Linked DNA regions of Homo sapiens: regions 1 and 2 are each linked to region 3. The links come from fine-mapping of genetic effects on gene expression. A gene starts in region 3. Each other region holds a variant in brackets. All regions are shown on one strand. Distances are between the middles of the regions.

Region 1 (2,849 bases), 66 kb after region 3:
ATGAGAACAGCCCATGAGTCCACTAGACCCAGACTTCATTCTCACAGGACAGCCAGAGACTGGCAGTTAGGATATTCCTGCAGAAGTCAGTGCGGATCGAAAGGTCATTCATTCCTGAAATCCCTGGGCATAGCCCTGAGATGCCTTCTAACCCAAAAACTCCATGGTCTTGAAAATTCCTGACATATCCGAAACCATCTTGGGAATGCAGGTGGAGAAGAGTGAAAGGACTAACGATTTACTTCAAAGTGACTGCCCCAAAGAAATGATATACTTCAATTCAACAGTCACATTGTTCTCATTACCCAGAAGTGTGGTAGCTTGAGAGCGAAATTAGATAAAATGTAGGAAATAAAGAAATTACATTTTTTTAAACCTGACTGGTAGTGCATGAATTATTAGCCCTGCTGTACACTCAATAAGTGGTGACAATAAAAACCATGCCTGGCATGTAGTGCACTATTAATAAAGGCTTGCTGAAATATTAGGAGGAACTCACAAGAATATTACATCTCAAATATTGGCACACAAACAGAGTTAGGATGTACAGGACCTGTAGAGGCTCTCTCTACTTGCAGGATGGCAGAATCACAACTTTATTGCCCAATATTTTAAGTGAAACAAAAGAATTGTGTAAGAGTCATAGCCATGTTGATTGTCAATAACGTCCTGAATACATGATCAGATAGAAAGTTCTCCAAGTCATGGGAATGGGCCTTAGGAGAGAGGATTTGAAATTTATTCACTTTTAGATTTGCTGGGCTTCCCAAAAAAATGGGATACAACAGGTCGTGGTGATCTGTCCCTGAACTCTACACAGAGACTTCATCTTAGCAATCCCAAGCCCTCTCTCAGGTATTACCTGTGACTGTTGATGACATCTAGTAAGTAATGATCACTAGTCATTTTTTTTCAGTAAACACTTATAGCATCCTACTTAACTTCTGGGTGCTGAGGCCTTAAAGATAATTAAAGTTGATTTTTAAATTTAAAGAGCATTCTTCCCACTCAAGGAGATCACACGGCAGTGGGAGAAACACAAGGGTAAACTGAGAGACCAAGCTGTGATCATTTGCATAATGGCAGAGAAGGGAGCTAGAGAGGAATGGATGTGGGGACATGGCTAACCTTTTCTAAGCTTGCT[CA/C]GGGGGGGGGTTTCCTGAGAAGGCCTAATTGGATTCTTTTAGCCTGAGTCCTGCATAATTCAGAGTTCACCAAGGGTGGATGGTAGATTCAGGCATACCAGAGGATGGAAGCAATGAGGAGAGAAAAAGCTATATGTTTATTGGCAGTAGAACTGACCGGCTGGGGGAACTTGATGTTTCTGTGATTGGAGCATGAAGCATGAGTGTGTTAAGCAAAGGAACAGAAAAAGTCTGCAGGATCATATTATGTGTCATGGAAGGGTTTAAAGATGGAATCATCTGCCTGGATTTCGTCTTGGAAATTTTGTTCTAGGAATTAGATAGCCGGTAGAGTGGAGGGAAAAGACTGAAGATTGAAGAATGTAAAACCAGCTTGCAAAAGCCCTGGTGAGAGATGATAGTCAAGATCTTCCGATTGCCCAAGTCAGACTCACTCAGATCTTTCTGAGAAAAAGGGGATCTCTTCACGTGCAAACTGGACATAGAGATCATCAGGACTGGTTAATCTCAGGTCTGCCACATGAATTCAATGTCATAGAGAGTTTCTGCTTCTCTCTGTGGTTATACACCTCTGCTCCGGAAAAACTAAAAAACTGAGCGAATGGCCCTTTCTCTCAGTTTTTTAATTGCAAACCCTATAAGGTATTTGGCGTATTAGTATTGTCCTTACCAAGATGAACTTTATGGGAATGTCTATTAATTTGGTTCCCTTTTGGTTCTGGAGCCCAACACACAGATGATTTTAGGTTTTATTCTATGGCACTAGAAATGTCACACTCATTTGGGTGCTACTATTTTATTAAATGAAGGTATACTTGCATAATCTTTTTGTTTTTTAATATCTGATTCTTTTCACTATCTGCACATCCTAATCAAAGATGCAGTTTTCGTTCTCAAAATGCCTTCTCTTATTAAATTATTTTTAAACATTAAAAGAAATGTGTGTGTCCCAGATCAAATAGAGAGCCTATTAGAAGAGTTGAGTAGGATACAAGGAGAGATGTATGTTCTAACATTTCTATCTTCTGCATCATTTGTAAATCTTTTTTTCCACATTGGCCATGTCCAGTCTAAACCTTTGGCAGCATAGAATGATGTCTACAACACCAGTCTGTATTGGTCACATCCTCTTGTTGTAATGTAAGGTACCGTAAAGCTCAGAATGTGCCTACGTAGGTAAAATCCTTTTCCTTTTCTTCCCCTTCTTTCCCTTCCTTTCTCATCCTGATCTTAGAATAAGTTTGGCTAGATCTTTTCAAATTATGTTTTGTTCTCCTTGGTTAAGCAAATGTAAAATTCATGTCTACTTATTCCCAATAAGCTCTTCCCCAGGACTCCTGAGACACCTCCTATAAGTTCTTTTTGATATAATCCTTCTTTCCCCATACTCTGATTTTGAATATCACTGGATCTAAAGTTACTTTTGAATCCTCATGATGAACCTGCCTCTCATTCTACTCTTGGCGGGAACAGATAAATGCAGAGATGTAATTCAGAGGGACCCAGGAGTTGGGAAATCCAGGCTTCTCTGGCTCCTCTCAGATGGTTCCAATTGCTAGTTTGACAGTCTTTGCCAAGCAGGGCATTAATTTTAACCATAGAAACCTGGCAAGTCAGACAATTCAGCTTGACATTGCAATTCAGCAGTGGGAACTATTAGTTTTGGATCTGATTTTAAGTGGTCTCAGAATAACAGAAAGGGTT
Region 2 (2,832 bases), 200 kb before region 3:
CTGCTCAAGTCTCCCCTTAGCCAGTTTAGTAATCCATATTTGCTCTCCTATACAGTTATAAATCCTAAGCCCTCTGGTTCAAAAAATGTTTTTTTTTAAATTCTTAATTGTGGTAAAGAACATATAACATAAAATTTACCCTCTTAACCATTTTTAAGTGTACAACTCAGTAGTGTTAACTATATTCACAACGCTGTATAACAGATGTCTAGAGCTTTTTTCATCTTACAAAACTGAAACTCTATACTCACAGGACAACTCCCTATTTCCCTCTCCCCCAACACCTGGCAACTTCATTCTACTGTCGAAGATTTTGACTACTCTAGATTCTATCCTTTGATTACTCTAGAATGTACCATCTTGCTATCTGTACTCTGTTCCTTTTGACTTTTCTTCTTTTAGATAAATTGAGGGGTTTTTTTTTGCAGTGTTTCTGGTTCATCTCCACTATTGGTCCTGACAACTGTATCTGGTTGTTTTGTGTGGGTGGCTGCTCTAGAATTTACAACATAAGGCTTTATCACAAGTTATCACTTACGACTTACTGACCTACCTTCAAATAATACCATACCACTTCACAAGTGGTGGGAGAACTCTACCTATACTTCCTTCCATAACCCTGTCCTGTGCTGTCGTTACTACTCATTTTCATTCAATATGTCACGAACTCCACCATGCATTGTTATATTTGCTTTCAGCAGTCAACTGTCTTTTAAAAAGATTTTTAAATTCTTTTATATTGACCCATATGTTTACCATTACTCATTTCCTGTATAAATCTAAATTCCTACCTAGTATCCGTTTCTTTCTGCCTGCAATTTCTTTCTTCTTTCCTGACTGATTTCAGATAAGAAGACTGATTTATCTTCCTTCATGTGTAAGGTGTATTTTTTGCCCCCTGGCTGCTTTTAAGACTATGTCCTTTATTACTTGTTTCTAGCAATTTGATTATTCTGTGTTTTAGTGCCATTTATTCTGCTTGGGGCTCATTAAACTTCCTGGGATTTGTGAGTTTATAGTTTCCATCCCATCTGAAAAATGTTCAGCTTTTTTTCTTCAAATATTTTTTTCTGATCTCCCTCTTCTTGAAAGTCCAATTGTAGGTATGATAAGCAACTTGCTATTGTTCCACAGCTGCTTACTGAAGCTCTGTTTTTATCTTAAGCCTCTATTTCTTTTCTCTCTGTGCTTTGTGCTTTATTTTGGATAGGTTTTTATTATTTATTTATTTATTTATTTATTTATTTATTTATTTATTTTGAGACAGATGCAGTCTTGCTTTGTCATCCAGACTGTAGAGCAGTGGCACGATCTCAACTTATTGCACCCTCCACCTCCCGGGCTCAAGTGAGTCTCCTGCCTCAGCCTCTTGAGTAGCTGGGATTATAGGCATGAGCCACAACGCCTGGCTAATTTTTGTATTTTTTTATTTTTTAGTAGAGACAGGGTTTTGCCATGTTGGCCAAGCTGGTCTC[G/A]AACTCCTGACCTCAAGTGACCCACATACCTCGGCCTCCCAAAGTGCTGGGATTACAGGCATGAGCCATCGTGCCCGGCCTACTTTGGATAGTTTTTATTGCTACGTATTCAGACATTGATCTTTTCTTCTGCAGTATCTATTAATGTCATCCACTGTATTTTTAAAATTTTAAATACAGTATGATATGGTTTGGAAGTTTTTTTCCCCTTCAAATCTCATGTTGAAATGCGACCTCCAATGTTAGAGGTGGGCCTAGGGAGAGGTGTTTGGGTCATGGGGGCGGATCCCTCATTAATGGCTTGGTGTTGTCTTCATGGTAATGAATGCGTTCTCACTCTGAGTTCACAAGTTGTTATCCTGGCACCAGCTCCCTCTCACCACATGATGCACGAGCTCCCACTTTGCTTTCTGCCATGATTTATTTATTTATTTATTTTTGAGACAGAGTCTCGTGTTGCTCAGGCTGGCGTGCAGTGATGGGATCTTGGCTTACTGCAACCTCCACCTCCCGAGCTCAAGCAATCCTCCCATCTCAACCTCCGGAGTAGCTGGGACTACAGGCATGTGTCACCATGCCTGGCTAATTTTTGTATTTTTTGTAGAAATGGGGTTTCACCACATTGTCCAGGTTAGTCTTGAACTCCTGCGCTCAAGTGATCCACCTCCCTTGGGATCACAGGCGTGAGCACTTGGCCTCAGGTATTTCTTTACAGCAATGCAAAAACAGACATACATGGTGTATGTTTCATCTGTTTAATTTTTTATCTTTTTGTACCTTCCATTTCTCTTCTCATCATTTTCATGTTTTCCTTCACATTTGTGAGCATATAAGATACAAAATAGATGTTTTAAGATCTTTGCCAATTATTTGTCATTTCTGGATGTGTTTCTATTGATTCATTTTTAAAACTTGGTTATAAGTTCTATTTTCCTGCTTCTTTGTACATCTGGTAATTTTGATCGGATGCCAGACATTGTGATTTTTACATCATTCAGCACTAGATCGTGTATTCTTTGGAGTGCATTTTTGTTCTGGTATACAGCTGAGTGACTTGCAGATCAGTTCGGTCCTTTCAATGCTTGTTTCTAAGGCTTGTCAGGGTAGGTCCAGAGCAGTCTATTCCAGGACTCAGGGCCACTAAGCTGTGACCCTTCCAAGCCCTCTTCCCAATGCCTCACATATGAAGAGGTCTCTCCACCCTGATTTCTGTCAGCTTTATGTGAGCTCCAAGAATTGTTCAACCTACTGCTGTATGGCCGACCTTTCCTTGCCTTCCTCCAATACACAGGAAGATAAGTACTCACCAAACCCTTTAGTGGGCCCCTCTGGAGATCTCCAGAGCTCTCTCTTTGTG
Region 3 (2,500 bases):
CTACCCAACAAAAGCAGGACTGATTCTCCCCGTAGGGGAGCATCTAACGTGAACACCAACTAATGTCGCGGAGGTCAAGTCTGAACCCTCAGAGTGAGCTTCTGAGGCAAGAAGTGGCTCCCAGGCCGGCTCTGCGGGTTCCCGGCCCGGGTGGACGTACAAAGTTGCCCCTTGTCAACTCCGGCCAGGTCCCCCGTAATTGAAAATAACAGCCACCGGCCAGCCCCTGGCTACTTGCATGGACCAGGCACTGTAGCAAGTGACAGTTACACATCATTACGACCAGAGACAATAATGAATGTAGCACCAGGAGCACTATTCATGCCAGCAGTGTCATCTCCGCCTTAACCCCTTCCCCTCCACTCTCTCCAGCGCGCACACACAGCCCACACGGTCCCGGTGCGGAGCTATTCATCCACCCCGCTCGAGGCCGGGGGGCCAACTACTTCCACGAGCCCCCCCTCCCCCCCAAGTTCAGCCCTGGGGTTTTATTTCACATCCTTGGCAACTGTCAGGCAAACACTGCAACCAACAATTCCACTAGGGGTAGAAAAACACTTGCTTAATTCACGTTACTTGATAACTTCTTCTGGAAAAAAAAAATTAGGGGAGGTGGGGAAGAAACCTCCTTCTTTCTTCTCCACGAATCCGACCGACGCTACTTGCTTTGCAACAGCATCGCCCTTCCCCGGCCCCCTCCCGCTTCCCAGCACTTTCCCCCTTTAAGAACACAGACCAACCAAAATGATTTAACTTGAGCAGATGACAGAAGGAAAATAAAACACGTTAAGAGAATACGGTCTGATTTGGGATGGCAAAAAAAAAAAAAAAAGAGGAGGGGGTTGTTTATTTTGATAAGAAACGGAATCGGCACAGACCTGAACAGAAGCTGCAGAGCAGGAGAAATTGTTTTCTTTCCCTCACACAGAGTCCCCCTCTCTCTCTCCCTTTCTCTCTCTCACACGCGCGCGCGCACACACACACACACACTCGCACACACACGGCGTCACCCGCGCACACGCACACGCAGAGCCTCTCAGCGGCTCTCTGCAGTTCTCAGGAAATGAATGGGGGGCAACCCGGGGAACTGTTGTACTTGCAAATGACTTACCCGGATCACATGATGCGCTAAATGTAGGGTGGGCCGGTGGGTGGAGGCTGCCGAGTTGCGAGCCCCGGTCTAGTGTGGGGAGCCTCGCCAGGCCCGCATCGAATTACCCCGGGGCCCAGCCGAGGGGGTTGCAGGACGCCGCTTCTCCTCCCTCGCAGCCCGCAGCTCAGGAAACCGGAGAGGCGCTTGGGGTGGGGTGGGGTGGGGTGCTGTGAGGGGGGGGGCCGAAAACAAGAAACCCCCAAACAAAAGAGCTCCGGGTCCTCCTCCCCAGAAACAAAGCCCCGCCGCTGCCGGCGAGCCCCGGGGTGGGGCCGAGGGCGGGGGCGGCGGCGGGGAGGGGCTCGCTCAGCAGGCGCTAAGTCGCTTTATTGCCATAAAATGGGGCCCCCGAGCCGCTCCGCCCGAGGATTAGGAGGCGGGCTCTGAGTGTGATGGTTGAAATCCCCTGTGGGAAACTAACCCCTCCCCGCTCGCAGAGGTAGAAGGCAACACCCACTGCCCGGCCCTCGCCTCCCCGCCCGGACCGCCGGGCTGGGTCCGCGGCGCCTCCACCCCGCCCCACCCCGCCCCACCCCTGCCCCCGCCCTCCGGCCCCGGGCCTCGGCAGCGCTTCCCTTTCACCTGCACCACTTTGCTGCGGCACCCCAAATAACCCACACATGGCCCTGGGAGCTCGGGGAGTCGTCGGCCGAGGGGGCCCGCGGGGGCTTGCGGCGGGAGGGACCCCTGGAGAGCAACTCGCTGGGCAAGGACTCGCGCCGAGCCGCGAGAAAGTCTCCTCTTTTGTGTCAGAGCGCGCCAGACAGGCTTAGGAGAATTCGGGGACCCAAAAAGCGTGCAGCCCGCTTGGGCCCCCACCCCTCGCCGCACCCGCCCGGGTGGGGGCGCGCAGTGGAGGGAGGGGGCTGTCGCCCGGGTCGTCCCCGCGGCTCGCCCGCCAGCGAACTTGGAAAGGTGTGGGCGGAGCCGGCCGGGACTGTGGGGCAGCTCGCGGGGACCGCCCCTGGGCGCCGGGCATCGCCCGCGCCGGGCAACAATGGGGTCAGGCAGGGGCAGCCCCGCGGGCGGTGCCCCCCGCGCGCCGGTGGGGCGGGCGGAGGGCCGGGCGCGGCAGGCAGGGGAGTCATTGTTTGGGTTCCGGAGCGACGCACGTTGCGGGCGAAGCGGGGGCGCCCCTTTTCCCTGCGCTTCACCTTGGCGGGATGAATGGGGGCGAGGCGGAGATGCGCGCCTGGCCTCGCCACCCCAGCGAAGGGGCCCCTGCCTGCGCCAGTTCTGTGGGAAAGCACGCAAACTTGGAGGACTGGGGCAGAGGAAGCGGGATCTGCAGACCCCCGCGGGGCCCGGGGGCGGCGGGGAAGGGAGTCCAGCTCCACTGCCCCACGC

Which allele goes with the higher level. Positions count from the first base shown, and alleles are read on the strand shown. Sizes are in standard deviations (SD) of each study's normalised expression. Not every link is listed here.
For the expression in atrial appendage of the gene that starts at base 1,544 in region 3, allele A in region 2 goes with a higher level than allele G (small effect, 0.33 SD a copy in GTEx).

Evidence for each region. PIP is the estimated chance that this variant, and not a neighbour inherited with it, causes the effect. A credible set is the group of variants that fine-mapping cannot tell apart.
Region 1: its variant is the best candidate, but not a certain one, in a credible set for the expression of KLF12 in fibroblasts (GTEx, PIP 0.65).
Region 2: its variant is the best candidate, but not a certain one, in a credible set for the expression of KLF12 in atrial appendage (GTEx, PIP 0.69).

Annotation. Positions count from the first base shown.
Region 1 is chr13:74,199,045-74,201,893 of GRCh38, forward strand. It overlaps a transcript of KLF12 not described here. Among named protein-coding and RNA genes, the nearest start is that of LINC00402, 31 kb to the right of the region's middle. The variant CA/C (reference allele first, on the strand shown) is at 1,145.
Region 2 is chr13:73,933,734-73,936,565 of GRCh38, forward strand. The region is part of intron 3 of KLF12 (KLF transcription factor 12); the gene reads right to left. Among named protein-coding and RNA genes, the nearest start is that of KLF12, 200 kb to the right of the region's middle. The variant G/A (reference allele first, on the strand shown) is at 1,476.
Region 3 is chr13:74,132,861-74,135,360 of GRCh38, forward strand. It overlaps KLF12 (KLF transcription factor 12), which reads right to left and starts at 1,544. Exons shown (of 8, transcript NM_001400136.1): 1 at 1,112-1,544. RefSeq lists enhancers at 22-201, 232-281 and a silencer at 1,291-2,500.